4 linked regions of the Homo sapiens genome follow. The protein of the gene in region 2 interacts with the protein of the main gene of each other region in a pairwise test. Each region holds a gene or a part of one and is shown on either strand. Other genes may lie near its edges. The genes, in order: FAM168A, RBFOX1, C1orf94 and RBPMS2.

Region 1 (8,612 bases), on a different chromosome or scaffold from region 2:
AGAATGTTTCCTCTCTAGTGTTTGAAATTATAATAAGGAAAATGTCTAAAAAGTTAGGCAAGTCCCACTTCAGAACTCTGTTTCTCTTCTCCTTCCCTCAGGACACCATGAAGGTAAGTTTTTTGAGTCACTCCCCATTTCTAAAACATATGAAGTATCATCCTTCAGATGTCTCGAGCTGAGCTTTGAGTCAGCCTGGGAAGTCTTTGCAGATCTTAAACTGGGCCTCATCTATATTTCCTACCTACCCCAAATTTCATATGTGCTTTCTTAATGGCCCAAAGGACCACCTCTAATTCATGAGGAAATATCCCAGGTGGGGCACCCAGTAACACCTCAGTAGGAGATATTCAGGGGTATGCAAGAAGTATGTCTGTCTGGCCTCAGCTGGGTGTACAGGAGAAGGAGTTATTAGCAAGGAGTGCCCCACTGGCTAACTAGGTTCGGTGTGGCACAGTGCCCAGTGCCTTTTAAGCTACCATGGCCACAGCTCAGTCCCTTCAGAAGAGATGGTAGTCCAGCAAGGTTCATGTAATGTGGTCATTATTTGTGGGCCTGTCTTTGAAAGCAGCTTATAAATATACCTCCAGATGATATTTCAGACAACAAAGAGTGCTCAGTTGATCTGGTGACACACAAAGGCTCCCAAGTTGTTACACATTAATGAGAAAGTGGCTGAGGAATATACCAGAGCCCTAGGCCACAGTGTCAGGTAGTAGGAGATGGTTATTCATGGGCATCTTTGTGGTTTTAGTAGTAGGTAGAAAGTCCTGACTCTTTTAGTGTAAGTTCAGATTTCCTTGATTTCAAATCATTTGGAAACATACTTCAGCACTCCTCCTAACCCACTCAACCATCTCAGAAAGGCTGACCATCCCATGTGTCTGAACAGGCCCCTTGGGTTGTATGTTTCTGTCCAGCACAAGACCCTTGCTTTGTGTCTGTGATTGGTGGTGGCCACTTCTTATTTCTGTCTAATGCCATTCTTGTGTCTTCCCTTAAGCAACTCTGCTGATGAAACAGGCCTGGCCACAGAACTCGTCTTCCTGTGGCACTGAAGGCACCTTCCACCTCCCAGTGGACACCGGGACCGAGAACCGAACTTACCAAGCATCCTCTGCGGCTTTCAGTAAATACAGCCTGTCTCATTTCCTTGTTCCCCTTGGTTGGGACTGATTTGTTTCTTAGGAAGAAAGGAAAGGGAGCTTTTTAAAATGACATTTATGAGATAAATAATGTTTTAAGAGGTTCTTTTACCCAGGCAAAAAATTACCCCTCCTTATTCAGGAAAGGTCATTCTCTTTGATCATGCACTCAGCTTTGGGGAAACACAAAGCACTGAGGGAAGGAGAAGGAAATACTCACCTGGCCAACAAGTTGATTGGGGAAGGACTGTTACTGCATTTTAGGGGGAAAGGACAGAGGGCACATTTTGAAGGTCTGTGGGTCTTTGGACAGAGAGGGCTCCCCCCTCTAGCACAGGGCTTCTTAATCTCAGCACTATTGACATCTAGGCCAAATAATTCTTTGTTGTGGGGGCGCTGTCCTGTGCATTATAGGATGTTTAACAGCATCCCTGGCCTCTACCCTACATGCCAGTAGGAAAGCCTCATTGTGACAACCAAAAATGTTTCTAAACATTGCTAAGTGTCCCTTATGGGGCAAAATTGCCCTCTGTATGAGAAACACTGCCCTAGTGCAAGCTGCACTGTGGGACCAAGGTGTGTATGAGGAGTCTTCAGGGAGGCCAGAAACCAGCTAGCCAGTCAGACTGGTCATATTCATCCTGAGGCTCAGTAGGGTAACTGATGTTGTCACCGTCACATCTAATTTTTAACACAAAGTGGTTCCACTGGGGAAATGAGGACCAATGTTTAGAAATTACTGAGTGGCAGCCGGGCGCGGTGGCTCATGCCTGTAATCCCAGCACTTTGGGAGGCCAAGGTGGGCGGATCACGAGGTCAGGAGATTGAGACCATCCTGGCTAACACGGTGAAACCCTGTCTCCACTAAAAATACAAAAAAAATTAGCCGGGCATGGTGGTGGGCGCCTGTAGTCCCAGCTACTCAGGAGGCTGAGGCAGGAGAATGGCATGAACCCGGGAGGCGGAGCTTGCAGTGAGCCAAGATCACGCCACTGCACTCCAGCCTGGGCGACAGAACAAGACTCCGTCTCAAAAAAAAAAAAAAAAATGAAATTACTGAGTGGCATTTTGACTCCATATAAGGAAGAACTTTGTGTCTTGTTGGAGCTGTTCAATAGAGGAATGACTGACTTTGGATGTGGTGAGAACTTCTCTCTTAAGTTGTGAGGGCTGGATAAGCCCTCAAAGGGATATTCCAGGCAAGGCCTGATAGTGTGTGGTTCCACAAATTATTAATCTACTAAGTAAGTAGACTAGAAGAATTCATTGTATTTTTTTCTTTTCTTTAAAACATCTGTGTTAGTCTGTTCTTGTGTTGTTATAAAGAAATACCTGAGGCTGGGTAATTCATAAAGAAAAGAGGTTTAATTGGCTTACGGTTCTGCAGGCTGCACAAGCATGGTACCAACCCCTGCTTAGCTTCTGGTGAGGGCCTCAGGAAGCTTACAGTCATGGCGGAAGGCAAAAGAGGAAGCCAGCATATCACATGGTGAGAGAGGGAGCAAGGGGCTGGGAAGGTGCCACACTCTAAATAATCAGAGCTCACTCATCAGCAAGGGGATGGTGCTAAGCCATCATGAGGGATCTACCTCTGTGATCCAGTACCTCCCAGCAGGCCCCATTTCCAACACTGGAGGTTACATTTCAGCATGACATTTGGAGGAAACAAACATCTAAACCATATCAACATCCAATGTCATTTTCTCAAGTTTTCATTGCCCCTAGATGTCAACATCAGTTTATGTTTATACAACGTAACTCACCTTTTGTAAAATATAGTCTCATAATCACCCTTTCATTTAATCTACATTACACTCAGTCTACTAAGTTATTTAGGTGGATTTTCATCCCAGTTTGAACGATGAGGCCTAGAAAGGTAATAGGTCCAACGCCACCCAGCTAGTAAGCAGCACAGCCGGAAAAAGGTATCACCCAGGTTAAGATTCAGTTACTGACTTTTCTCATGAGATTGATTTTACTCTTTAAGAGAGGTATGTCAGGCCAGGCGCGGTGGCTCACACCTGTAATCCCAGCACTTTGGGAGGCCGAGGTGGGCGGATCACAAGGTCAGAAGATCGAGACCATCCTGGCCAACATGGTGAAACCCCATCTCTACTAAAAATACAAAAAATTAGCCAGGCATGGTGGCGGGTGCCTGTAGTCCCAGCTACTCGGGAGGCTGAGGCAGGAGAATGGTGTGAACCCAGAAGACGGAGCTGGCAGTGAGCCGAGATTGCGCCATTGCACTACAGCCTGGGCAACAGAGTGAGACTCCGTCTCAAAAAAAAAAAAAAAAAAGAGAGAGAGGTATGTCAGCCATAAGGAGTTTCTCCAGATACCTCAGGTAGAATGAATGAACATACGTAAGATTATATATATATAAAAATAGGGATATACATGTTCTCTCTTACATCTAAACATCTGGATATAGACGCATATAGGCACACCTACTGTAGTGTAGCAGAAAGCAGCCTGGAGTGGAAGCTGCATTGAATTCTAGACTGGGTTCTGTGTAACCTTGGATAATTGATGTCCATGCATTGGACCTTGATTTTTCAAACTGCAAAATGAGGGAACTGAACTAAATCATCTCCAAGGTTCTTTCTTGCAATTAGACTCCTTATCTCTCAGCAAGATGATGTGTACTCAGCGTCTTCCACCCCAACAGGGACCACCTCTCTAGCTGCCCTTAGCTGGCCAACAAACCATCTCCAAAAATGGAGTACTCATTCCCTTCAGAGGCAACCCTTTCCACAGGAAGTCTGAGTAACAGAAGGCCTTGCCTTCTACTATGTTGAAATCTTCCTGAAATCCCATTAAGTGTCCAGCAGCCACATCCCACTGTTCCCTCCCAGACAGGCTATCACAGTCCCTGAAAAAGACCAAAATGTACCCACCCCCACCTTTTTTTTGAGACAAGGTCTTGCTCTGTCACTCAGGCTGGAGTCCAGTGGCACAATCACGTCACACTGCAGTCTCAAGCTCCTAGGCTCAAGCAATCCTCCCTCCGCAGCCTCCCATGTAGCTGGGACCACAGGCATGCAAAACCATGCCCAGCTAATTTTTTTAATTTTTTGTAGAGATGGGGTTTTCCCACATTGCCTAGGCTGGTCTCGAACTCCTGGGCTCAAGCTGTCTGCCCACCAGCTACCATGCCTGGCCTACCTCTGTTTCAAGCAAGTAATGTATAAACCTGTGCCATTTTTTAATGCAGTTGGGGTTGACTGGCCCTCCCATACTCAAAAAGATTCCTCCCAGCATTCAGATTTTGTGGCTTCTAGTACCACAGAAAATTCAGGGCACTTTGACAAATTCAGTTCAATTTCACTGATACTTGCTAAGCCTGTTTGTAATTAGGTCTCCTGCTGATTCATCACTGTCTCACTTGGCTACCAACAAGGAGTCTTAGGGGTCAAAGCAAGATTCAGACATAGAGCTTTATTTTGTCCAGACATATAAATCTGATGATCAATAAACCAATTAGTCTAAAAGGCATCCGTGATGCAAGGATCAAGCCTTTGAAGGTGGTAGGGCTTCTACAACTGAAAAAGATTTATGACAGTGAAAAAGGATTGCAGAAAGCGCTGAAAAGGTTTTATCTTGTTAATGTACATACTCTTTTTATTATCCCATTTGATTCTAAAATTATGGTTAGGAACCTAAGAGAAAGAATAGGACATCATAAACAAAGCCTCTTTTATAAGGCAGAGCTGGGACTTCGAGTGATCTAATTCATTTTTTCTTTCATGATATTGCCTTTAGTGAAATGGGGACAACAAAGGCCAGTATATTAAATGCCCAAGATTGGACTACAGAGACTTTAACTCAGCAAGAGCTCTGCCTAGGGCAGGGTGAGCCCTGAACTTTGGGCCTAGCTGTGTACTGATGTGCTGTACAATTTGGGGAAAATCTGTCCTTCTGGGCTCCAGGTTCTTTCTCGGAAAAGGAGGAGGTTGAATATAAACCTCTAATGTCCTTCAGGCACAACATTCCAAAGTCTTAATTCTGTGACCTTCAGACTTAGAATTCCTTTCAGGATAGCCAGGCCTCCAGTGAGTGAACTGAGTCTAAGTTCATTTGGGCAAAATCTGTGAGACTTTTTTGCAACAAGCCCAACAGCTTCTTTTACTTAGATGCATAAAGTAATAAACCCTGATTTTTGTGTCACCCAAGCTCAGGCTATAGCTCCAGGGGAATTTTCAGTGTTCCTCAAGAGTATTGACAGGACCACTAGTAAATTATGGAAAGTCCTCTGAAATGATTTCCTCATGAAAGTCTTCTGAAATACTCAGAGACCTAGAATGTCAGCACTAGAGAAGTTCTCTGATACTGTCTAGTCCAAATGAGGATATTCCCTGAGAGGAATTGACCTGACTTACTGACAGAACCTAGGATGAGGGCCCCCAGGCAGTTTCTCCAGCCTCATGAAGATCCTCCTGACAAATGGTAACCTTGAGAACCACTGTGGTTAGAGGAAGTAGCACTGAGTCTTAGATCCCCACAAACAGCTCTCTCTTTCAGCAACTACTCATTATCTCATCTGTGAAATGTTTACGTTGGTCTTAATGATCTCTGAGTCTTCTAGCTCTGCAGTTCTGCTTCTATCTCAGACTGTCTGGACAAACAAGCAAGGCCTTCTTCTGCAGCATCATCTCTTTGGCTGCCAAGGGTGTTTTGGCTACTGATTTGTATTCTGAGTATGTGTGTGTCTCATTTCATAACATGAAGAAAGGGAAACATTCTCAGACAAGGTTATTCTTAGATGTGGGAACCAAATTCTACTGCAGTCTCTTGGAGCTTTTTGATTTTCCTCAGAGGGATAGTCTCACCACTTTGTAATATGGCTGTCCTTGTGGCATACAGTGGGTAATCCAGCTTCCCCAGGGAAGAGAAAAATTCCAGAGCACATTCTCCAGGAGCATAAAGGAAAGTCATCAGCATCTTTGGCCTGTTAACTTTAAAGAATCATAAAATCATGGCATTTTAAGCCATAACATTTTAGAATCTTAGAATCCTGGAGTCTGTGTTCCAAGCTGGGACAGACCATAGTAGTCATAGATTAGCTTTAGTCTCTCAGACCAGGCTCTGCCTGCATACCCTTAGGACAGAAGCTTACTGTCCCTATAAAGTGAGAGAGAAAATAATAATAGCTGATCTTTATAAAGTGCTTCTAATATGTCAGGTACTGTTCTAAGTGCTTTTTACTTAACAGTTAATGTATTTATCACAATGAAGTAGGTACCATTACTGTTCCCATATCACACGCGAGACTGATGTATCCTATAGCTATTAAGTCTCAGAGCTGGGGGTTTGGACCCAGGCAGTCAGTCTGTCTCCAGACTGCTCATAACCATGGCTCTGTGCTACAGAGCTTTCAGAAACAGGCACCTTCTGATTCAGGGGTGTCCTACTCTCCTGCATAGAAAAGGGATGCTTTCAGCTCTGCTAGGTTTCTCTACACCTTGATATATTCCTTTAAATTAGGGGTCAGCAAACATTCCTGTAAAGGGCCAAATATTTAGGCTTTTAAAAAGGCCATATGCTCTCTGTCAGTGACTACCATTGTAGCAGGAAAGTAGCCTTAGTCAATATGTAAATGAATGGATGTGGATGTGTTACAATATAACTTTGTTTACCAAAACTAGCTTCAATTACAAAAAACATGGCTGAAATTTAATTGTTTTAAATGTTTATAGTATGAATAAAAGATTCTGTGGTAAAATTAATTTGGAAAATACAGTCTTGTACATACTCCCATCTTAGAGATTCACAGTTCACCTCCCCACCTTCTTTAAGAGACAGGGTCCTGCTCTGTCACCCAGGCTGAAGTACAGTGTTGTGATCATGGCTCACAACAGCCTTAGACTCCTGGGCTCAAGCCATCCTCATGCCTCAGCCTCCCAAGTAGCTGGGGACTACACCAGCCACCATGCCTGGCTAAGTTTTTTTCTTTTTTTAGAGATGTAGTCTGTCTGTGTTACCCAGGCTGGTGTTAAACTCCTGGTCTCAAGTGCTTCTCCTGCCTTGGCCTCCCAAAGTGCTGGGATTATAGGTGAGAGCCATCACATCCAGCCCATCCTATTGTTTTAAAAACTTCTCAGGGTCATGGAATAAAAACAAAATCTTAACTGTTTATCTCTATTTTACATATGGGACTATAGAACTCTTTTGTTTCCTTTTCTTTGGCAAAAACAACTATTAAGATCCCTTGGGATCTATAGTACGTTGTCCACATTTGGGAAATGTCTATCTCTGGTTTATCTATAAAACCCCTTTATTTTATAGATAAGTAAATTGTGTCTCCGTACACATCAGATGGTTCCTTCTAGACATCTGCAAAGCTAGTCTCCCTGTCTTCCCCCACAGTATCTGCTTCTCCTCCTATGACCACATTTCATCATTAGCTCCATAATCTAGAAACTTTGAGAAATCTGCTCTAGACTTCTCACTCAGCTCATAGTTGCACTTCCAGTTAGTTTCTACTTCTCTTTAACATGCTTCCCTCTCTTTCATATGTACTTTCCATTCTATCCTCATTGTTACTTATTTCCCAAGCATATTTGATCACAAAACTATGGAAAAAACTATGGATCTGCAGGTGAAAAAATAAATGACGTGAATCCAGGAACAGGCTGACTTTTGTGGCAGCTGTGCAGCAGCTCTCCTATCCTCCTGAGTCATCAGGGGCAGGGGGGTGCTAAGCCAAAGAGGTGTGATGTGGACTGAGAAAGATTTGTGACCATGTGGTAGTTTGCTTTTACTTGGGGTTAAGGTAGAAGAGACCCAGGATCTTTAGAACCATGGAATTTTTGTTTAGGAAGAGATCTTCATTCTTAGCCACCTGATTTTACAAAATAAGAAACTAAGGCCCAAAGACTTGACAATTGTCATGAAAAATTAGGGGGAAAGCCAGGACTGAAGACTAGATGTCTTCTCTTCCAATAAAGCACTCCCTCCACTCTGCCCCTAGTCCCTTATTATATGATAGAAACAGCACCTCGGAGCTGAAAGGGTCCTTGGTGAGCATCTTATAGGTGAAAGAGCTGAAGCCCAGAGAGGTTCAGTGAGGTCTGCTAGACTTACCCAAGATGGAACCACAGGAAAGAAGCCACCTCAGCACCTCCCCAGCAGGGCTTCAAAGCCTAGGTCCTCAGGCACTGTCCCTTCAACTTAGAAGAGTTTAGAGTCTTTAGGAGAAGTTATTAAAAAGACTTGCCTTTTCTGAGCCCAGGATCCCCTTGTGTAAAGTCCAAGGATTGGAGTCCCTTGATGATCACTTGGGTTCCGTAGAACGATTCCATTTTGTGATTCTAAAAGGAGACAGTGTTGTTCCTGAATGACTCATGTTTCAAGTTTTTTTCTGTGAACAAAGGATCTGTCACTCTTTTCCGGAGGATTAAAAGGCAGCACAGTTTATTTACATGGGCAATTGTGAGCTTCTTGGGGCCTGACTTCTCAGCCCCATTC
Region 2 (8,612 bases):
ATGTCTCCTAACTTGGGTTTTCCTTTATTAGAATAATGATTGTTTATTTTTATTTTTAAACTCCGTTGTGCAGAGAGGCCTGGCCTTGACAGCCCAAGTTTAGGACATGCCCCAGCCTGCCATCCCTTCCCTGCCCCCTGTCCTAGTTCATCTCCCCTCCATTTATCATTTTATCTTTGTTACAAAAGAGAGAAAAAAAAGATGAGAGGGCCTGGATTCTTTCAATTTTTAAGTGACCACAGAGGCCCCGGCTGGAGCTACTGGCAGATTTATTTTTAGCTAAGATCTTTTATGTTCAGAAGCAAAGGACCTGGGGCCTGTGAAGGGTAAAGGTGGTGCTGGCAGTGGCTGTGCTGGTAAAAAGTGGGGCTGACTCAAAACCTGTGTCCTCTTTGAGCTCGTCAGGGAGGCCCTCCGTTTGGAAGAATCCCCTGGGCTTTCCTTAAGTTAGCTTATGGTTGCCTCGGGTTAGGAAGAAAAGTCATCATTCCTCGCGGTAGTGGAAGTGACACCTTAGGGGTCCAGAGAGTGGAGCTTTATGGCTCAGAAGAGCACAGGGCTTCTGGATCCGTTATCTGCCAGCTGTGTGACCTTGGGCAAGTTGCTTTACCTCTCTGAGCTTCGGGTTGTCACCTGTAAAATCAGAGTTTCAGTCGTAGTTCTGTCCTCAGAGGGTTTGGGGGTAAATTACTTAAAGCACTAAACATTTAGAACAGTTTGGCACATGGTAAGTGCCTGAATTCTATGAGTTTTGTTTCTTTATTCTTTCAAGTAGATTCCTCTAATTTTTGAGCCTTGTAGCACCGAGTGGTACAGGAAAGGCAGGTGGCTTGCCTTATACACACACGTTTTCTTTTAAGTAAGGAACAGAAGCCTCAAGCTCTCCCATTCTGCTCTCTGCATGTTCCAAGGAGGATCACGGACAAGCTGCCCACCCACTGGCCAAGATATAGGTTGGTGGCATTTGACTTGCTGTCTTGACAAGCACCTGAAATTAAGTTTTTGCAGCAGTTGTACATTTCTTCTGACCCACTGAAAGGACTTGATCTCCTTGGCCCCCTGGGATGAAAGTATTACCTTAGCAAATCTGTTTTTTTTTTTTTAATTAGAACATCATTTATTTAATACATAGAATATTTTGAAAACACAAGAATCGAAGAATATTAGAAGTGGCTTTATCATTCCTCCTGGGATTCACACATTGCAATTAGTATGTTTAGATATAAAATTTTGTGGCCAGGTGCAGTGGCTCATGCCTGTAATCCCATCACTCTGGGAGGCTGAGGTGGGCGTATTGCTTGAGTCCAGGAGTTCAAGACCAGCCTGGACAACTTAGCAAAACCCTGTCTGTACTAAAAATACAAACAATTAGATGGGTGTGGTGGTGCACACATGTAATCCCAGCTACCCTGGAGGCTGAAGTGGGAGAATCACCTGAGCCTGAGAAGGTTGAGGCTGCAGTGAGCCGATATCACGCCACTGCACTCCAGCCTGGGTGACCAGAATGAGACCCTGCCTCAAAAACAAAACAAAACAAACAAACAAACAAAAAACAATTTGTGATAGTATCTAAACAATTTGTGATAGTATTTAATTGTATAAACATATAAACATCTGTGGCACACATTTGCCCATAAATGAACTGAATGCACAAATACCTTGATCCAGTTTTTAGAAAGAATTTTAGTTTTGTTGTGGCAAGAACACAACATGGGCTGTACCCTGTGAAAAGATTTCTAAGTATATCATACATGACTGTTTTAAGGATAGTATTGTATAGGAGATGTCAAGGAGTTATTTACCTTTACTGCATGAGGGATTCGGGGATCTAAAATCGTCAAACTCATAGAAGCAGAGAGTAGAAGGTTGTGGCCAGGGTCTCAGGGGCCAGGGAAATGAGGATTTGCTGATCTAATCAACAGGTATAAAGTTTCAGTAATGTTGTAATAAATCTTGCTGTCCGTAGAACGTACAGTTTTTTACATCACCCTGAAGCTACAGAGTTTTCCACTCAGAAATGAAGCTGAAACATGGGTCTGAGCGGGTTTCTCCTCCTGGAATTGACCCACTCTGCCCTATTTTTCTTCTCATTATAATTGAAGCTATATATATATATATATATAGAACCTGCTCCTGTAAGGTTTGAGCACAGGTCTTCTAGACATCCTCATGTCTCTGATGATTTTAGAAAAAAATTAAGCTTAGTCCTTTTAGCTCGAACCATCCCAAGCTATTATATTTTATCAAAGTCCTTTCTGATAGTACATATTTTTTGTATCCAGAAAATTGGGTCTGCCCTGTATAGGAATCTGACATTTCACCTTTCCAAAAATTAGACCATTTCGTTTGCATCCTTTAAGCTGATGTGTGGAGTAATGAACACATTCCAAGAGGGAAATCGTATTTGACACAGAAAATACTTTGGAGACGCAGCGATTTCCCAGTGGCGTGTAAGGAGACTATTGAAATCCTAGCACGTTTGCTCTGAAGGACAGAGGGCAGCTCGTCCTGCCTTTGCCACCCAGCATGGGAGTTACACAGTAAGCATCATCCACAAATTAATACTGGCTGACTTTCCTAAAATCATCCTTTAATCTGTCGCTTTCACATTTACCCACAGTGTCGTGCCGGAGACCTCAAACACCGAGGCGACGTTTTTAAAGAAGCCACGAGGCTCTTCCCAATGTCTACCTCCATTATTTAAAATACTGCCTCGAGGCACAGGTATAAATATTAAAACTTTAATTAAAGAATCAATCAGTGATGGAGCTTCAAAACAAGGGGATCTAGCACTTTCAGATGATGTCAACTGTGAACACAGTTAGACTCGGTCGTAGGGCTAGGAGTTTTTATGAAAAATGACGCGTGGAGTTATATACACAGGCAACTGTCCTCATTTTTTGAATCTGTAGTCATTGTGAGCACTGTCACTCATTACCACTGGTTTGTCATTGTTCGCTAGTCAAAGAGACATGGGTGACTGTGGCCTGCTGCTACAGAAGAGTGTGTTGTCTTAGGGGAAGGAGTGGCTAATGCAAGAAATATTTATTTGGAATGTACCACATGTTAGACCCTGTGCTTGGTGAATAAGGCAGACGAGAACTTTCCTTTCTTGTAGCTTATATTGTCGTGGGGGAAGCCGCGTCATAAGCAAGACGTTGAAATATATTTTCATAAGGATAATGAAAAGGGTTCCAAAAATTATAGTGTGATAGTGACTTGGGGGGACATTCCAGAGAGGAGAGATTTGACCTGAGAAGTACATGAAAAGAAGTAGCTGATCTGTATGGATCCATACATTTATCCAATGAGTATTCTACTCATCTCCGCTTTCTTTTTTTTGAAACAGAGCCTCACGTTGTATCCCAGGCTGTAGTACAGTGGTGTGATCTCATCTCACTGCCACCTCCACCTCCTGGGTACAAGTGATTATTATGCTTCAGCCTCCTGAGTAGCTGGGATTACAGGTGTGCTCTGCCACGCCTGGCTAGTGTTTGTATTTTTAGTAGGGATGGAGTTTCCCCATGACTGGTCTTAAACGCCTGACCTCAAGTGATCCACCCGCCTCCTCGGCCTCTCAAAGTGCTAGGATTACAGGCGTGAGCCACCACGCCCAGCCTCATTCACCCCTACTTTCTATGAATTCCTGAGTGTTCATCAGGCACCCACTGTGTGCCAAGCACTATTGAAAGCACTTCAAGTGCAGAGTGATCAATACATGCAGATACCTTGTCCTAAAAGACTTCCGTTCTAGGATAGTTGTCTGCATGGAGGGCGTTTCAGAGAAGGGGACCAACAAGCACAACGATCCAGAGGCTGGAATAGTGACAAAATCATACAGTTGAAGGTTGGTCCTATAGGCCCTTGTGGCCTGGGAAGGGACCCTGGCTGTTATTCTAATGGGAAACCATTGGGGGATTTTATGCAGAGAGATACCAGGATATATTTATGTCTTAAACATTATGGGAAAATTGTTAGGTGTTTTTGAGATGAGTGAATAAACAAGCATGCCTTCCTGGCCGGCCGGCTCTATTTTTTCAAAGTTTCAATTCATTTCTATGACCAGATTTGGTCTGTGGACGTAGTGACATCTGAAAAGGTAAGCCTTGCAACGTCTGAGAAATTAAACTCGATTCCCCACCACCACCTACTTCGTAGGGCTTACACTAAAATCTTTCATTCAAGAAGAGGGATTACTTTATAGGGAAAAAGAACCTCATTTTCCAGTAATGTTCTTTGTGTGAGGGTGGAAGACCCTGGGAGGATACATCTGTATACATTAGCCTACTTAGATTTTCTTTCTCTGGGGCCTCCCTTCAAAGAGGCAACATCATGTGTTCTTGTGTGCCTGCATGAGCAGCCGCACCCTCCCACCACCACATCCTTTTGATGGCTTGACTGACAAGTCTCCTGGGAGTACCCTGAGAACAGTTGCACTCAGATGCCCTTTATTGATCGTCTGTCCGGGTAGGTTCCCTTTCAGAGTATGGCCACAGATTCTCCCATTGGTAGGTGTGGGCCAGGGTAATAACAGATATTGACAGTGCAAAGTGGGTTGCTTATGGAGAGCTCTGAGTGCAGCCGACGTTGTCCATCTTCAGAGGCTACCCTGCCCTTAGAAGGTTGAGGTGCAATTTGTTGGAGGGTTTGGACACCTGGACAATTCAGTTTTCCTCCCACATTGACTGTCTCTTTATCCACAATACTGGAACTGCATTATTGCCTATTATATGTGACATGAACATCAGAATAAGTGTACATGGATTGAACTCTTCCTATGTAGCACAAGCTGAGCCAAGCACTGTACCTTCATGGCTGTGTGTTGTGCTATGTGTTTCAGGCATGTGATCGCCTCCCCCACCCACCCAGCAGTTCACCTTATTCGATTCCTGCTCATCCTTCAGGTTACAACTCAAAAGCCCCAGGCTTAGAGAAACTGTCCCTGTTTGCCTGTGTCGATTCTCGTTTTTTACAGCCATCCCAGGGGCATCTTATATTTTATTGAGTGACTCTGTTTTATCCTTTTTCTCTTACTCCACTCCATGGTCAACTGCAGGTGGACCATGCATACACCTGTTTGGACATCACTGTCTCCTTAGCATCTAGCGTGGTGCAAGGCACACAGCAGAAGCCCCATATGGAAATAATGAATTATTCCATTTGATGCTTCTCACACACTTTGAGGTTAGTGCTTTTCAGATCCCCATTTTGCAGATAGAGAGTGGGGTGTAGGCAGGCGTTAAGCAATTTGTCCAAGGACACAACAGCAGGTAAGAGGCACTTCCAAGATTTTGAACCTGACAGTCTGAGTCCACAGCCCCTGATGCTCATCACTGTGCACATGGCCTCTTTTGCTGCCTTTGCAAGATACAAGGGAGGGTGGGAGGCAATGTGTGCAGTGGTTAGGGAGCTCTTGCTGCATAGCTTGAGTTGCTCTGAGAAGTGATGCTGAGCCCATTAGAGCCACAAAAGGAAAACAAGGCACTTGTTTCTATTTATTGCAGTATTACTTTATCGTTGTGTAAGAGCCTCGCTAGATTTCTGCACTGGTGCAATCTGGCTCTTGTTTTGTTGTTTGTCTCCTTGGAGTCTCAAGGCCCTGGGTTGCCCAGGGCATCTCTGGCCTCTTTATCTAGGCTCACGCTCTGAGTATGATTTTGAGGGAGCGGTTGGACCACCTGCCTGGTTACAGGCAGTCCTTGGGCATCATGCAGTCACAGCTGGAGCTGCTCTGATAGCCACTCAAAATGTGGTGTGCAAACCACTGCTCACTCCATCTAATCACCGTCATCTGAATCAGCTTCCCTCTTCATTTCTTCTGAGAACAAAATTAGATCTTTGCCAGCATAATGGATGAACTTGTGCAATCACCTTGTTCATTGCTAGTTCTGCATTTCCCCAAGATGTTGATGTCTCTTTTCTGTGAATTTTAGAATATAGAGTGTCAGAGATGAGGGTGAGGACTTGAGGTTTTCAAAATTGTCTTCTTTGTACCATGGTTGGGACCCTAATAGCTATGACACTCACTGGAAGCTCCTTCTGTGCTAGGGCTTCCTGTGTGTCATTTCATTAACTCTTCATGGCAAACCCTTTATTATACCACTTGACAGATGAAGGAACTGAGGCCCAGTGACTAAATGGCAAACCGAGATTGCAGACTCAAGCAGTTCTCTTCCCCTGCTGTGTGTGGAGAGGGCATGCTTGGGATGCAGGGAATAGCAGAGGCACCATGATAAGGTACTAGGAAGGAGGCAGTGCAGGTATTTCACTGAGATTCCAGAATCAGTGTGTCTGGCTTGAGATCCCAGCTCCATCACTTTCTAAGTCCATAACCTTTCACTTTCTTCAATTTCTCTGAACCTCAGTCCATCCCTACAAATGGAGATTATCACTACATTGTACAGTCCGTCTGAGGATTAATCAGCCTGGTAAATTATTTTAGCAAAGTGCCTGGCACCTAGTGTGTGTTTAGTGCAAGTAGGAGTCATAGGGCTGACTATGATAATCATGACGATTACTATTATCCATTGATAATAATGATATCATTATTAACCTTGTTTTTGTTGCTAGAATTTCACAATCCCTTTGGGCAGCAAATTGGTCCCAGAATGTGCTTCGTATATTTTCCTCTTGACTGTAACTGAGGTGACAAATTGAGAGTGAAGGGGGAAGAACCCAGCGTAGCTGCAAATGTACGGTTGAGATCGTTGACAGACTTGAGGCCCTGTGTGGAGTTCCGCCTGCAGAGGATGCTGACAGCAGCCATATGCATGGGCTCTGATTGATTGGCAGAGAGAAACACTAATTTATTAGACTCGTTATGAAAAGTGACGGAGCAGGGGATTGAGAGGGCTGATTCAGCAACAGTAGCCCTGGCTAGATCCCAGGGGTATTGGCTTGGTGTCTGTTTCCCTTGGGACCAGCCCCCTGTCTTGATTCTGGGTCACTGCCTGTGTTCTCAAGTGAGTCTCCTGAAGATGTCCATGGCATGGCTCACTTTTACCACGTTGTAAATGTCATACCTATTTCTTCAGTATCCTTAGAAAGCTGAGTCCAGTTCAGGTTGCTGTTGATTGCAAAGGCTGATAAGAGGAGGGAGGGAGTGTGTGCATGCAGAAATTCCCCAGTGGAGGGAAAATAGTCCTTTTCACAGGTTAGAGAAAGTGCAGTAGTTTCCTTGAGGGAGAATAAAGGGCATGGTTGATACCTCTCTTTAAGAACATGATGACCGGGCATGGTGGCTCCTGCCTGCAATCCCAACACTTTGGGAGGCTGAGGCAGGAAGATTGCTTGAGCCAGGAGTTGGAGACCAGCCTAGGCAACATAATGAGACCCTGTCTCTGTTAAAAAAAAAAAAAAAAAAAAAAAAATTAGCTGGGTGTGGTAGCTCATGCCTGTAGTCCTAGCTACTCAGGAGGCTGGGACAGGATTGCTTGGCTCTGGGAGTTTAAGGCTGCTATGAGCTGTAATTGTGCCACTGCACTCCATCCTTGGCAACAGAGCAAGACCCTATCTGTAAAAAAAAAGAACATGAAGCTCTTTGTAGAAAGATTTCTCATTTCTGATTTGGAGAGATTGTTCAGTCTGAATTACAGCAGGTAGGATGCTGGTTAAAGAAGTGTCTTGCCTTCAAGGTGATAAGGCACTGAATGGGGCTATGTTGGAGTCAGAAAAGCTTTGAGAAGACTGAATTCCCTGAGCGCCAAGGTGCGAAAGGACAAAGTCATGGCAGCCAGGTACACTTAACTTGTGGATCCAGATTCTGCCACTTCCTGGCTGTGTGAGCTTGGGCCAGTTACTGCACCTCTCTGAGCCTCCATTTACTTGTCTATTAAAAGGCAAATGATTCTGTCTCCAAGGATGGCTACCTGGGAGTGAGTTAAGTCAAGCAGCAATCACACAGACTTCCGAGCTAGTCACTTCTTATTTTTTTTTACCTTGTGGTATTCAGACAATAGCCTCTCACCCCATGACTCTTTGATACAAAAGGTTCCCTAGTTAGTGTGCTGTGATTTGTGGAAAGATATTTTGTTTCCTAGTGAATTTCATTCATTTTGCTCAGGAAACTTTATTGGTTTTGTCTGTGTAAACCTAAAATAATCTTCAAAAGTTCATAACAAGAACAAGGAACCATCCACCCCATTCTATAAACTTATTTCTACTGAATTGTGCTTCGCTGGTGTCAGTTTATAATGAGAAATAGTATAAGAAAGCCGATTAGCCACAAATTTTAAAAACTTGACATTATATATGCACACTGAAAGAGGATAGACTATTTAAAGTTTGAGAATTTTTACAGTTGAATCTAGCATTTGAAAGAAAAACATGGCCGGGCGTGGTGGCTCACGCCTGTAATCCCAGCACTTTGGGAGGCTGAGGCGGGTGGATCACGAGGTCAGGAGATCGAGACCATCCTGGCTAACATGGTGAAACCCCGTCTCTACTAAAAATACAAAAAATTAGCCGGGCGTGGTGGCGGGTGCCTGTAGTCCCAGCTACTCGGAAGGCTGAGGCAGGAGAACGGCGTGAACATGGGGAGCGGAGTTTGCAGTGAGCCGAGATCGCGCCACTGTACTCCAGCCTGGGCGACAGATCGAGACTCCGTCTCAAAA
Region 3 (6,337 bases), on a different chromosome or scaffold from region 2:
GAGGGCATTCCAGGCAGGAGGAGCAAGGCCCTCAGATGGGAAAGCAAGTGGCAAGCTGGAGGCCTGGGGAATAAAGGAGTCTGGCTGAAGAATTAGATTTGTCTCTGAAAAAGGTGGAAAATAGGATTGGAAAAGGGAGGTTGAGACTAGATTATGAAAGGCTTTGGACTGCTAGGCCTGGGGATCCAGGGAAGATTTATGCACATCAGAGTGAATTGATGGGCTGGAAGTAAGAGAAAGAGGAAGCAGGATAGGGTGGGGTCTAGAGGTGGCTCTAGGGGCCTATGGGACAGATTATCATCCCCTGGAGGTGAGAATAGAGACCCAGACAAGCCCCCTGCAGGTTGGCCAACTTCCCACATTCTGTGCTGTGACTCTGGGCTCTGGGAAGATAGACTTGCTGTAGGAGATAGCCCTGGCTGTGTCTGGGAGGGAGGGTGGTCTCAATGTCTCCTCAGTCAGCTTTCGGGAACCACCGACTGGGAGCTGTGAGACCAGAAGGTTGAGACTTGGTCTCCACATGTCTGCAGAGGTCGGAGGAGTGGGTAGGCAGCCCGAGGAAGGAGCAGCCTGAGAAGTGAGAGACAGCCTGGGGAAAGCCAGAGACAGTGGAGGCAAAGAGGAGGGTGAGGAGAAGGAGCAGGGTGGATTGGCGTTCTGAGAGGCTGGGGAGACCAGGACCATGAGGTCGGAAAAATAATGTAAGGGATGCAAGCCTGAGTACCCAGAGGGGATGATCTGTTCATTCAAAAAATATTGATCCAGCACCTTGTATGTGCCTGGCACTGTTGTAGACACCAGGGATAATGAAGTGAACGAAAAAAAGGTTTTCCTTCTCCTAAGGAGCTTTCATTCTAGAAGGAGAAATGGACAATAAGGAGATAAACAGGCAAGCATGCAAGGCCAGGTCCTCAGGATATGGGTTGGGGTGGGGAGAAGAATCAAGGGCAGCCTCTTGAGCCAAGATCTAAATGAGATGAGAGAATGAACCACACATACATTTCGGGGATGAGCCTCTGGGCAGAAATAATAGAAAGTGCAAGGGCTCTGAGGTGGGAACCTGTGGCTGCAGCACAAACAGTGAGGGAGGGAGTGCATGGAATTAAAATAAGAGGTAGCCAGGGCCAGACTAGACAGGGCCTGGTAGGCATGGCTAGAAGTCTTGTTTCAGGAGCAGTGGAAAACCATGTAGGCTTTTAAATTGATGAGGACATGTTCTAATCTTCTATATAAAACAGATCACATTGGTCAATGTCTGAAGAATGGACTATGAGGGTAAGAGCTGAGGCAGGGGAGTAGGCTAGAGCTTTATAGTTGAGCAAGAGGCATTGGTGGGATGGATAAAGGCAGTGACCCTGGGAAAGGGGGCAGGTGAAAAGATCTGTGATGTGTTATTTTCTTGGTAGAATTGGTGGGACGTGATGATGGTTGAATGTGTGATGAGGGAAAGGGAAAAGTCAAACAAATTCCTTGGTTTTTGACTTGTGCAACTGGAGCAGCAGCAATGCCAAAACACTAAGGTCATTGGGCCAGGCACAGTGGCTCACGCCTGTAATCCCAGCACTTTCGGAGACCGAGGTGGGTGGATCACTTGAGGTCAGGAGTTCGAGACCAGCCTGGCCAAGATGGTAAAACCCCATCTCTACTAAAAATACACAAATTAGCTGGGCATAATCGTGGGTGCCTATAATCCCAGCTACTCGGGAGGCTGAGGCAGGAGAATTGCTTGAACCAGGGAGGCGGAGGTTGCAGTGAGCCGAGATCATGCCATTGTATTCCAGCCTGGGTGACAGAGCACAACTCCATCTCAAAAACAAAACAAAATAAAACAAACAAACAAACAAAAAACAAAAAATGACCAAGGTCATGATGACCACAGCAAGGATCTGTTTACCAAGAGTCAGTCTTAGACATGTGAAAATTGAGAAAGTCATTAGACAGATGGGTGGAGCTATGGATAGGTAGGTGCATATAGGAGTCTGGAACTCAGGGGAGAGGTTGGGGCTGGTAATACGTTTGGGAGCCATTCTCATATACATGATATTTCAAGGCAAGGGATGGGATGGGATGAGATGGCCCAAAATACACAAGTATAGAGAAGAGAAGAGATCCAAGGGCTGAGCCTTGAGACTTCCAGCATGTAGAGGCTGCGGAGATGTGGAGGAACCAGCAAAGATTCTGTGAATAAGTAGGACTATCTAGTGAGGTGGGGAAAAAAATGGGAAAGTGGAGTGCAGGAAGCCAAGTGAAGAAAGTGTTTCCTGAACAAAGTGCTGGTGTTGGGGTGGTGACGCGAGGTGCTGATGGAACAAGATCAAGGTGAGGCTGCACCTGGCTGGGGAGTATGCATGGGCCTAAGCAGAGAGTTCAGCATGGAAGACAAGGAAGGTCAGCAGAAAAGGTGGAATCAAGAGACAAAACTGTGTGAAGGGGAGAGGAAGGAGTGAGAGGCTTCCATGTCCTCAGGGAAGGAGAAGTAGAGCCCTCCCCTCTGCCAAGTCAATTTGCACACATTCATCATGGTGGAATAACCATACAATTTATCTTCCAAGCAATAATAAATTTGAGAGTTAAAAGGAGTACAGATAATAATTATATCAGGCCAGACACGGTGGCTCACAACTGTATTCCCAGCACTTTGGGAGGCCAAGGCAGGTGGATCACCTGAGGTCAGGAGTTTGAGACCAGCCTGGCCAACACAGTGAAACCCCATCTCTACCAAAAATACAAAAAATTAGCCAGGTGTGATGGTGCACACATGTAGTCCCAACTACTGGGGAGAATGAGGCACAGGAATCGCTTGGACCTGGGAAGCAGAGATTGCGGTGAGTCAAGATCATGCCACTGCACTCCAGCCTGGGTGACAGAGTAAGACTCTGTTTCAAATAAATGAAACTATAAAATAATTATACCAGAAATACCAACATAGAGGCCGGCCCAGGCAAACCAGGACATATGTTCGTCCTACTCAACAGGCAACTCAAGCTCCTCCTCCTCCAGGAAGCATTACTTGTTAACTCTCGTCCACACAGATTGCTCCTCTTCCTGGCCCTCTAGCGTACATACTGTCTAGATCATGCCGGTGGCCGTTGATCTGATCAGAAGTTCTCAACCTGGAGGACCTAGCTGCATGTGTGCCAATCAGATATGAGCTGTGTCATGATCATTGTTGATTACTGATAATTGTTAAATACTGAAGTATGGGTTACAGCCTTTATTTTGTAAGTCAGAGTGGAAGGCAGGGTATCCCTATAATAACATCATTATGATTTCTGAATGATCCCAATATGATTTCTGAAAGAGAGAAACAGAGGTGGGGTTACCGCTGGCATGGATTGCTTATGAGGGACCCACATTGTGTCAGGCCCTGGGCACATGATATGAAATAGGTAAAGTCTCTGCTCTCTTGGCACTTATTTTAGTGAGAAGCTAGTGAGACAACCCAGCCCAACTTGCCCATGGAGACTCAGTGAGCAAGAGACAGAGTTAGCTGCTGAGGCACTACAAATGAATGCCGTGGTCTATTTCCATTGCTTCTTCCCTCCTCTGCTCCCGCTTTTTGTTTCATCAATTCATAGAAGGGTACCATGAATGTGAATCTCTTCTATAATATGCATCTGCCCAGCTGAAAAGTGATTGAGAATCCCAGGATTAGATTAAATCTAGCCATTTGCTCTATTGTAATTTGTATTGAGTTCTGTTCCCATTCATTCAAAGTATCTGAGCAGATGGGTGAAGAAATTACAGTAGGATTCCAGCAGTGTGAGTAAATGATTCCATCTGGAGAGGTCAGGGAAGTCTTCACAGAGGAGATGGCTTTTGAACTCTATTTTGAAGTATGGATAGGAGTGTGCCAGGGAGAAAAGGAGAGGCGTGTGCATTTCTGCTCTTAGACGGTGAGGCTCACGTCTTAACCCTTCCTTCCCTGAGGGTCTAGCAAAGCCCTAGGCACTCAGTGATGTCTCAATGCTTATTTCTGAGTCAGGGATGGAGTGAAGGGCCTGATTTAGCTTAGTGCTGGAAGGGGAGGAGGGACTCTGGGATTGTCCAGCCCCAAAGACCTTATGCTGGACTTGCCTCTAAGTTCTCTGATGTTGTAGATTTTCCTGAGGGACATGTCTGGTCCTCTAAGGCAGGTAGAGTGGTCACAGGAATACAGGTAAGATGCTTAGGTCCAGAGAGGGTCCCTGTTCTATGGGTCTTGGGCAGGGAGAGAGTGTAGGCTCCATTGAAACAATCTTTACAGGCTCCCAGGGACTTCCTGATCCAAGTAAGCATAAGGAGAAGCGCTTGATTGTCCTCTAATTGTATTATTTTAATATTTTACTTTCCCAGGGCCAAAGCCTTTCTTATGCCAAAGCCTTTACCCTCCAAGCCTGTCATGGTCTTCACTGTTTCTGACAACCATAAAATTAATATATATATTTTTCTAATTCTCTCCGATAACATTAGGAATCTCATCATGGCATCCACCCTCCCTCTCTTCCAGGTTCGGCTCGACATCCGGAGGGCCCTTGATGCACAGCCCCTATTTTTCTTCCAGTGGGAATGGCATAAACTTTTAGATCTCCTCTTCTCCCTTCTCCTCCCTTAGCCCTTGGATCAGGACTAGGGGCTCTGATTTTTGGATTCTGCAAAAGCTTGGTATGAAGTTTGGAAAAGCAAGGTTCTGACCAGGTCACAGACAAAACAGCAAGACCAGATTCATCTATTGGCCAACACTGACACAAAAATAGCCCTCCTCACACATGGCACAAGCTACACACACACACACACACATGACCCTCATATTCATACTTGCTTGCTCAACCACTTATGCATCTATATTTAGCTAACATGAGTGATTTTTGTTTTTGTTTTTGTTGGTAAAATAGAAGTAAGACACTTAATTTTAGAAAGTTTGTATTTTATGATAAAAGTATGAGCTACTTGAAATGGAGTGTGCCTGTTTATTTTTGTGGTGTTCTGTGTAATCTTTACCTCTCATTTTCCCCACGAGACTCAGCGTTTACTCAGGGCATGAAAGGAGACCACAGGCTGGAGTCCTCAGAGTGCTGCTATCTAAATATTGGACCTCAGGGATCATAAGTGAGAGGGCTTATCTCTTTTCCCCTGTGATCCACTCACCTCTCAACATCCCAGTGTATGCATCTCAGGAAGGGACATCATAAACGGAATGCACTCTGTCCTATCCCGAGTGGAAGTTTTCCATAAAAAGTCTCTTTTGGACAAACGATTGGGAAATGTAGCCTGGAAAACAATTTCAAAATTGATGCTAAATGTGGCAGACTATATCCAATGATTGTACATCAGTACCAAGATAGAGGTCAATGTCAAAACTGCACCTAATGGTGGCATCCTTAGACCTGTCTTGTTCAACTCTTACCAATGACTCGAATAAGGACATTGAGAGCAACTTGATCACATTGATGGAGGACATGAGTCTGGGAAGAGGAGACAGCCTGGATTTGTGACAGCACACATTCTTTAACTCTTCTGTTGCACCCCCTTGGCAGACATCGCTAATCAGCTCTGTCATTCTATCCCCATGAGTTTGGAGAAAGCCACAGAGTCATTCTTCCTGTGGTGCCCCAGGCAGCTGTCACTGATCAGAGTTGGTCTATGAAATGAAACCCATGTGGCATGCTCTCACAGTGTAACCCCATCGGCCTCACTGGTCTTTCTTTCTGGGTCCCTGGAAACCAATTTCTCTCCCAAGTTCCCTCAAGACTTATGCCTTCTTACATTCTTCATGGCCTAAGTCTAGGATTCCCTGGAAGTCCTTCAACTCCCTTCCCCAATGCTGGACCCTACTTTGGGCATTTCTTGTTTCTTCTTGATAGCCTTGGTTAACAGTCTGTCCCAAAGGTCTTTCTTATATTGTACTTCTAGGTATTGATCCAGGCTAGACTATAATTTGCCACCCTCCCTTGATCTCAGCATTTTGGGAAACAGGAGACAGTAAAAGAAAAATTATGGGTTTGCCTTTGGCCAGACTTGGCTTCTTAGCTGCTTTCCAACTATGACTTAGGGCACAGAACTTAACTTCTCTGAACCTCTTTTCCATGATTGGCCATATTAAGAGTTGTGAGGATTAAAAGATAATGCAGACTTAATATAAACTTTGAATTTTGAGGATTAAAAGATAATGTAGACTTAATATAAACTTTGTCTATTTAACATAGACTTGTGGCTTTAAGATGGTGGAGTAAAGATGTTTCTTTTCCTCTTCTCTTGAAACTTACCCCCAAATAACAAGGAGAACAAGTAAACCTGTATGAACTCTATCCTCAATAAAACTCGGAGAAGTTGGCAATCCCATCCCATATACAAAAGC
Region 4 (8,612 bases), on a different chromosome or scaffold from region 2:
GGCGTCTGTAGTCCCAGCTACTCAGGAGGCCGAGGCAGGAGAATGGTGTGAACCCGGGAGGTGGAGCTGGCAATGAGCTGAGACCACGCCACTGCACTCTAGCCTGGGTGACAACAGAGTGAGACTCCGTCTCAAAAAAAAAAAAAAAAGAAGAACTGGCCAGGCACGGTGGCTCACGCCTGTAATCCCAGCACTTTGGGAGGCAGAGGCGGGCGGATCACGAGGTCAGGAGTTCGGGACCAGCCTGGCCAACATGGTGAAACCCCGTCTCTACTAAAAATACAAAAAAATTAGCTGGGCATGGTGGCGTGCGCCTGTAATCCCAGCTACTCAGGAGGCTGAGGCAGAAGAATGACATGAACCCATGAGGCGGAAGTTGCAGTGAGCCGAGATTGCGCCACTGCACTCCAGCCTAGGCGACAGAGCGAGACTCTGTCTCAAAAAAAAAAAAAAAAAAAAAAAAAGCAAAAAACAAAAATTAGCCCGGCGTGTTGGTGTGCACCTGTAGTCCCAGCTACTCGGGAGGCTGAGGCAGGAGAATCCCTTGAACCCAGGAGGTGGAGGCTGTAGTAAGATGAGATCACGCCACTGCACTCCAGCCTGGCGACAGAGCAAGACTCCGTCTCAAAAAAAAAAAAAAAATTAGCCAGGCATGGTGGCATGCACCAGTGGTCTCAGCTACTCAGGAGGCTGAAGCTGGGGGATTGCTTGAGCCCAGGAGCTCGAAGCTACAGTGAGCCGTAATCATGCCACTACACTCCAGCCTGGGCAACAAAACGAGATCCTGTGTCAGAATAAAAAAAAGGGCGGGGGGGGACCAGTCTGGGCAAAAACTGGAAGGTGCAGAGCCTTTTCATCAATAGTTCTTCAAAAATGGGCCAGGCACGGTGGCTCACACCTGTAATCCCAGCGCTCTGGGAGGCCGAGGTGGGCGGATTACGAGGTCAGGAGTTCGAGACCACCCTGGCCAACATGGCGAAACCCTATCTCTACTAAAAATACAAAAAATTAGCCAGATCGCTTCTCTGCCTTTTGGCTAAGATCAAGTGTAAAAAATTAGCTGGGCATGGTGGAAGGCACCTGTAATCCCAGCTACTCAGGAGGCTGAGGCAGGAGAATTGCTTGAACCTGGGAGGCGGAGGTTGCAGTGAGCTAAGACTGAGCCACTGCACTCCAGCCTGGCAACAGAGCGAGACTGTCTCAAAAAAAAAAAAAATGGTCTCAGCTCCTATGCCAGTATCCTCTCCTAACTCCCTGCCCCTACCTGCACTAAAAGATAGTTGAGGAGGGGGAGGTTGGTTAACCACAAAGAAGGGCGAAGTACTCCAGACTTCTGCCATGGCCTGGTCCAAGTCAGGCTCTGTCCGTCCTCCTTGGAGGTTGGAGGTGGCCTTGATAGCTTGTGACAGTCAAGAGCCTCTGCTCAGTTGGCCGTGAGTTGACTGACAGCCAAGGCAGATGCGCCTAGGCAAACGCTCCCACCACACCCAGGCCCTGCTGCACTCCAGAGGCCTCCAACGCTGATACAGCCACCAGTGCACTCTTCAGGAAGGGAGGGCCCAACAATCCTGTCACCTGTCTAGTGTTGGCACGTATCAGAAGTAACCGTACTCTCTCCATCAAAGGGTGGAATATGGGAAGAAGCAGAATACAAGGAGGCTATGCCAGTGCCTGGACAGGCAGTGGACGGGTTCTGGCATATGAAGCCTCATAGGCTGCCCACAGTTCTGACTTAATGGTGGCTTTTTTTTTTTTTTAAGATGGAGTCTCGCTCTGTATCCCAGGCTGGACTGCATGACGCAATCTCAGCTCACTGCAAGCTCTGCCTCCCGGGTTCACGCCATTCTTCTGCCTCAACCTCCCTAGTAGCTGGGACTACAGGCGCCTGCCACCACACCCGGCTAATTTTTTTTTTGTATTTTTAGTAGAGACTGGGTTTCACCGTGTTAGCCAGGATGGTCTCGATCTCCTAACCTCGTGATCCACCTGCCTCAGCCTCCCAAAGTGCTGGGATTACAGGCCTGAGCCACTGTGCCTGGCCTGTTTTTGTTTTTTGAGACCAAGTCTCATTAAGTGGCCTCCGCCTCCCAAGTTTAAGCAATTCTCCTGCCTCGGCCTCCTGAGTAGCTGGGATTACAGGTGCTCACGGCCACACCCAGCTAATTTTTGTATTTTTAGTAGAGATGGGGTTTCACCACATTGCCCAGGGTGGTCTTGAACTCCTGGGCTCAAGTGATCCACCCACTTCAGTCTCCTAAAGTGCTGGAATTACAGGCATAAGCCACCGAGTTTTTCGGTTTTTTACTTTTTTTTTCTCTCTTTTTTTTTGAGACAGGGGCTCTCACTCTATCACCCAGGCTCAAGTGCAGTGGTGGGATACTGGCTCACTGCAGCCTCGACTTCCCGGGCTCAAGCGATCCTCCTACCTCAGCCTCCTGACAGGCTGAGACTACAGGCGTGTGCCAACATGCCCAGCTAGGCAGCATCATTTCTGAAGTGTAGGGGACAGGTTCTGCCCCACTGCCTCATGGTTTGCCAGAGGCGTGTGGATCCTTCTGTGGCAGCCATGGGCGGAAGACAGAGGAAGTGACGTGACACCAGATGTCGCTGCTGCCCATAACCAATGCCAGAGCAGATCCAGAACCCAGCACTGTAGTTCAGTTCTGGGTAATCTTGGACCAGGAGCTCAGTACTCAGGGCAGGCAGGACTCACCCTGCCTCCAGCTCGCAGGATTGTCCTGAGGCCCCGAAGGATAAAAGGGTTCAGAGCATGAGAGCCAAGCAAAGGCTCAGCACCCACCAGCCATGGCTTCCTCTACTTACGGCGCTTGCCAGTCCCACCCTGGACATGGGGAGGAGGAAGCCAGCATGTCCCAGCCTTGAGTGGGATTTTTTTTTCTTTTGAGACAAGGTCTCGCTCTGTCACCCAGGCTGGAGTGCAGTGTGGCACGATCTCACTGCAACCCCTGCCTCCCAGGTTTAAGTCATTCTCCCACCTCAGCCTCCTGAGTAGCTGGGACTACAGGCATGCACCATCACACCCAGCTACTTTTTTGTTTTTGTAAGGACGGGGTTTAATCATGTTGCCCAGGCTGGTCTTGAACTCCCAGGCTCAAGTGATCCTCCTGCCTTGGCCTCCCAAAATGCAGGGGATTACAGGCATGAGCCAACATGCCTGGCTGGCCTCCTTGAGTGGGATTTAGAAACTGGTTCTCTCTGGGGCAGACTAAACAGATTGCCCGTATGTGGAAAAGGAAGGGATAACGAGACACAAAAGAATGTCCCCCAGAATATCAGCCAAATGGCTCTTTAGAGCAAGAATCGTTTCTTTAGTTAAAATGCCCAAAGCAATGGGTAGTGGAGGAGTGTGTGAAAGTAGTCACGCCCAGGTACAGGAAATAAGTAAGTGTGCCATTTGTAGAGAATTTAAAATAAAACTGCTTGGGCGTGGCAACTCACATCTGTAACCCCAGCAGTTTGGGAGGCAAGGCAGGACAATCGTTTGAGGCCACAAGTTCGAGAGCAGCCTGGGCAGCAAAGCAGACACTGTCTCTACAAAAAATTAGCCGAGGCCAGGTGCAGTGACTCAAACCTATAACCCAGCACTTTAGGAGGCCAAGACAGACGGATCACCTAAGGTCAGGAGTTCGAGACCAGCCTGCCAACATGGTGAAACCTCATCTCTACTAAAAATACAAAACTTAGCCAGGTGTGGTAGCGGGTGCCTGTAACCCCAGCTACTCGGGAGGATGAGGCTGAAGAATCACTTGAACCCAAGAGGCAGAGATTGCAGTGAGCCGAGATTGCGCCACTGCACTCTAGCCTGGGCAACAAAGCAAGACTCTGTCTCGAGGAAAAAAAAAAAAATTAGCTGGGCATGGTGCTGGTAGTCCTACCTACTAGGGAGGCTGAGGTGGGAAGATCATTTGAGCCCAGGAGATCGAGGCTGCTGTGAGCTATGATCATGCCACTGCACTCCAGCCTGGGCAACAACAGAGACCCCGTCTATAAAAAAAAAAAAAGGAATTTAAGGCCGGGCGCCGTGGCTCATGTCTGTAATCCCAGCACTTTGGGAGGCCAAGGTGGGTGGATCACCAGGTCAGGAGATTGAGAACATCCTGGCTAACACGATGAAACCCCGTCTCTACTAAAAATACAAAAAAATTAGCCGGGCATGGTGGCGGGCACCTGTAGTCCCAGCTACTTGGGAGGCTGAGGCAGGAGAATGGCGTCAACCCGGGAGGCGGAGCTTGCAGTGAGCAGAGATCGTGCCACTGCACTCCAGCCTGGGCGACAGAGCAAGACTTCGTCTCAAAAAAAAAAAAAAAAAAAAAAAAGAATTTTAAAAATATGCAAGATGTGTAAGGATATAGATTTTTTAAAAAAGAATTTAGGTCAGGTGCAGTGGCTCACATCTGCAATCCCAGCACTTTGGGAGGCCGAGGCCTCCCAACATGGAGAAACCCCATCTCTACTAAAAATACAGAATTAGCTGGGCGTGGTAGCACATGCCTATAATCCCCCTACTTGGGAGGCTGAGGCAGAAGAATTGCTTGAACCCAGGAGGTGGAGGTTGCGGTGAGCCGAGATCGCGCCATTGCACTCCAGCCTGGGCAACAAGAGCGAAACTCCGTCTCAAAAAAAAAAAAAAAAAGAATTTAAAAAATAAAATCCATCCTGGCTAACACGGTGAAACCCCATCTCTACTAAAAAATACAAAAAATTAGCCGGGCGTAGCAGCGGGCGCCTGTAGTCCCAGCTACTCTGGAGGCTGAGGCAGGAGAATGGCGTGAACCCAGGAGGCAGAGCTTGCAGTGAGCTGAGATCGCGCCACTGCACTTCAGCCTGGGCGACAGAGCGAGACTCCATCTCAAAAATAAATAAATAAATAAAAATAAAATAAAACTGGCTTGGTTTGTTTATTATCTTCGTGCAATGGCAACTCTAAATCATATCTGTGATAAAAGGCCCCTCCTGGCAGGGGCTGACAGCTCCCATCACCCATCTTGGGATGCCACCAGCCCAAAGGAAACTAGTCCGGAGTCAGCCTCTGGGCTTCTGGTTGGCATCACCCAAAACTCAGCCATTAGAAACTTTAATTGCAGATACCCGGCTGGGCGCGGTGGCTCACGCCTGTAATCCCAGCACTTTGGGAGGCCGAGGCAGGAGGATCAGGAGGTCAAGAGTTCGAGACCAGCCTGACCAACACAGTGAAACCCCGTCTCTGCTAAAAATATAAAAATTAGCTGGCCGTAGTGGTGCGCGCCTGTAATCCCAGCTACTTGGGAGGCTGAGGCAGGATAATCGCTTGAACCTGGGAGGCAGAGGTTGCAGTGAGCCAAGATCATACCACTGCATTCCAGCCTGGGTGACATGGCGAGACTCCGTCTCAAAAAAAAGAAAAAAAAAAGAAAATTGCAGATACCTTTCTCCCCCTGCCTTCCAGTCTCACCAAAAACCCTAATATAAAACACAATAGCAGTATACTGTGTGGTTAAGAGCAAACTCTGGGTTCAAATCCCAACCTCCCCACTTAATAGCTACATGAAAGTTATTTAACCTCTCTGTGCCTCACTTTCCTCATTTATGAAATGGTGATAATAATGTAAGTACTTCATAATGCTCTTACAAAGATTAAGAGTTAAAATGGTGCAGAACATATAACAATGCCTGGCATAAATACAACATACAGGTTCATTATTATTAGTACAGCCTCTCCCTTAGATTACTTAGGCAGAGGGGACACATCCACAATAACTCCCAGTGAGGAGGGGAACCTGACCTCCTACTGCTATATGCCTGGCAGGGCTTCTAGGTGAGTGCCCAGAAACAGAGAAGCCTCCATTCCCTCATATTCAAAAAAAGCCTGCAGACCAAGATGTCCCAGATGCTTTCAAATGCTATTGATGTTAAAGAAAAGGGAGGTGCCCAAATAGCACACTGGATCCAGGAATTACCTCGCACTCATCTAGAGTGCCTTATCCCCCACCTCCCACACCCCCCTCCCCGTTCCATCCACACAAGTCTAAGCACCTGTTCACCCACATCTCAGGGAGGGCTGACCTCAAGCCACCCAGTGGTCCCAGGGCTCTGGCTGCTTCCTGACACCCCTCTGAGGACACATGATGGGCTCTAGGATACCAGGCCTGCAAGCAGCAGCCCTGTCCCAGCCACACTGGGATGAGGTGGAAGGGCAGGGAAGGGCAAAGCCCCTCAGGTCAAACTGTAGCCCCCTTAGCTGCCATTAACCCCTGCCTTTCTATAGCTTACCATTAAGCTGGCAAAAACTTTTTTAACTCTTAAGAAACTTATATCCTCCCTCAACCCAATAGTATAAATACCACTCTCCCCCTTCCAGGGGTGCCCCCCAGTTAAAAATTACTTTAACAATCTCCAAACTCTTCAAGTTGTATACACTAAATATACACCTTTATATATGCCAATCATACCTCAAAAAAGTGGTTTTTAAAAATTACTATAACTTAGTATCACCTCGTACCGTTTAGTTGTCCCTCGATATCTGAGGCGGATTGGTTCCAGGGTTCCCCCTTGGATATCAACATCTCCAGATGTTCAAGTCTCTTATATAAAATTTGTATATAACCTATGCACAGGCCGGGCACGGTGGCTCACGTCTGTAATCTCAGCACTTTGGGAGGCCGAGCTGGATGGACCACTTGAGGTCAGGAGTTCAAGACCAGCCTGGCCAACATGGTGAAACCCCGTCTCTACTAAAAATACAAAAATTAGCCAGGCATGGTGGCGTGCACCTGCAATCCTGGAGGCTGAGGCAGGAGAATCACTTGAACCTGGGAGGAGGTTGCAGTGAGCCGAGATTGCGCCACTGCACCCCAATCTGGGCAACAGAGACTGTCTCAAAAACAAAACAAGGCTGGGCGCCGTGGCTCAGGCCTGTAATCCCAGCACTTTGGGAGACTGAGGTGGGCAGGTCACCTGAGGACAGGAGTTCAAGACCAGCCTGGCCAACATGGTGAAATCCTGTCTCTACTAAAAAACAAAAATTAGCCAGGTATGGTGGCGGGCACCTGTAATCCCAGCTACTCAGGAGGCTGAGGCAGGAGAATTGCTTGAACCTGGGAGGCAGAGGTTGCAGTGAGCTGAGATTGTGCCACTGCACTCCAGCCTGGGTGACAAGAGTGAAACTCCCCTTCAAACAAATAAAAAAATAACCTATGCACATTTTCTGGATACTTTAACTCATCTCTAGATTATTCACAATACCTAATACAATGTGAATGCTATGTAAATAGTTGTTATATTTATTTGTATTATTTTTTATTATTGTATTTTTTATCTACAACTGGATTCATGGATAGGGAACCCATAGAAATGGAAGGCCAACAGCAACTGTATTATGAAAGCAAGGTCTCCACTTTCAAAATAGAAATCACATTTACCCCTCTTCAGAGACATGGTAATTACCCAGTTATCCCTTGAGAATCACTAAGACAGGACATTTAGGTCTGAAGTTTGGCAGCACTGATACAGCCTGCCCCGGACAGGTTCATGTACTGTATTACCTCATGTCGTCCCCAGCTCCAGTCAAGACTTACCTGCAGGACAGCACAACCTCTAGATTGGGAGGGACATTCAGCTCCTCCCCTTAATTCCTTACTGCCCTCCTTAGCTTTCAAAGGGTATCAAAGCTTCGAACACATCTTCCCAAGTGGCAGAAAAATGCCAATTTTCCCGTAATACCACAGTCATTACTGCCCTAATTCCAAACTCTCATTATGGCTGCACTGCCTGATATTGCTGCAATATAGCAAACTCCAGGTAGTTACCCAAACAAGCCATGTGGTTACACAAACCTACCTCCTCACTTATACATGCGACTCCCTCCTCTTGGAATGCCTTTTCCACCCCCACAGGTCTAACCTTGCTCCTCCTACTCACCCACATCTCAGGGAAGGCTGACCTCTAATCTCTCAGGAGCACCATGGTACCATGTGCTCATATGCCTTTATTTTATCTATCATTGCATTTCACCTACCACCACTTCCTGGCAAGTCCTTCCGACCTCCTAGGCTGAGAATTTTCACTTGTATCCTTAACCCCTGGGTCCAGAAAGAAAACTTAATGCGTATGACATGGATAAAGCCTATAGGTAAGGTAGTCAAGCAGGCAGAGTCAAGGCTATCCAAAGCAGTTCAGGACAAGCAACCTCACTGATAACTCCCAGAACCATGAAAAATACACTCCCTTCGCCAGTGACCCAGCGCCTTTAGGAATTGAGGTCTTACGGCGTGCAGCAGCATTCCTTGGTTTCCTGGGCTTGCTCTCGCTAGTCTCCAAGAGTTGACTGGGAAGAAGCCACCTGTGTCAGCCATGGGAGTAAACCACTGCTAACGCTGATTCTCCAGATGGTTGCTCTTAGGGGCTGCAGAACTGACTGCTTAGGGAGCATCTAAACTACAGGGAGGATTCCAGTTCCAGCCTACACCACCAATCCAAGATGGAGCCACCAGCACAGGGGCTCATGGCCCACTATTCAGAAGACTAGGCCAGGGCTTGGGGAATAACCCTTTCCCTTACCAGACCAGACAGACACTGGGCTCCAGGAGACCCTCAGAACCCTTTGTTCTGGACCT

Evidence for each region.
Region 1: the proteins of RBFOX1 (region 2) and FAM168A interact in binary tests that used the Homo sapiens proteins (3 or more experiments, as listed by UniProt).
Region 3: the proteins of RBFOX1 (region 2) and C1orf94 interact in binary tests that used the Homo sapiens proteins (3 or more experiments, as listed by UniProt).
Region 4: the proteins of RBFOX1 (region 2) and RBPMS2 interact in binary tests that used the Homo sapiens proteins (3 or more experiments, as listed by UniProt).

Annotation. Positions count from the first base shown.
Region 1 is NC_000011.10:73,412,391-73,421,002, reverse strand, and holds part of FAM168A (protein FAM168A), read left to right. Parts: intron 1-101; coding exon of another isoform or gene 102-113; intron 114-1,003; coding exon 1,004-1,129; intron 1,130-8,612.
Region 2 is NC_000016.10:6,021,165-6,029,776, forward strand, and holds part of RBFOX1 (RNA binding protein fox-1 homolog 1), read left to right. Parts: intron 1-8,612. UniProt on the Homo sapiens protein: RNA-binding protein that regulates alternative splicing events by binding to 5'-UGCAUGU-3' elements. Regulates alternative splicing of tissue-specific exons and of differentially spliced exons during erythropoiesis.
Region 3 is NC_000001.11:34,214,197-34,220,533, forward strand, and holds the end of C1orf94 (uncharacterized protein C1orf94), read left to right. Parts: intron 1-4,489; coding exon 4,490-4,565; 3' UTR 4,566-4,935; downstream 4,936-6,337.
Region 4 is NC_000015.10:64,764,788-64,773,399, forward strand, and holds part of RBPMS2 (RNA-binding protein with multiple splicing 2), read right to left. Parts: intron 1-8,612.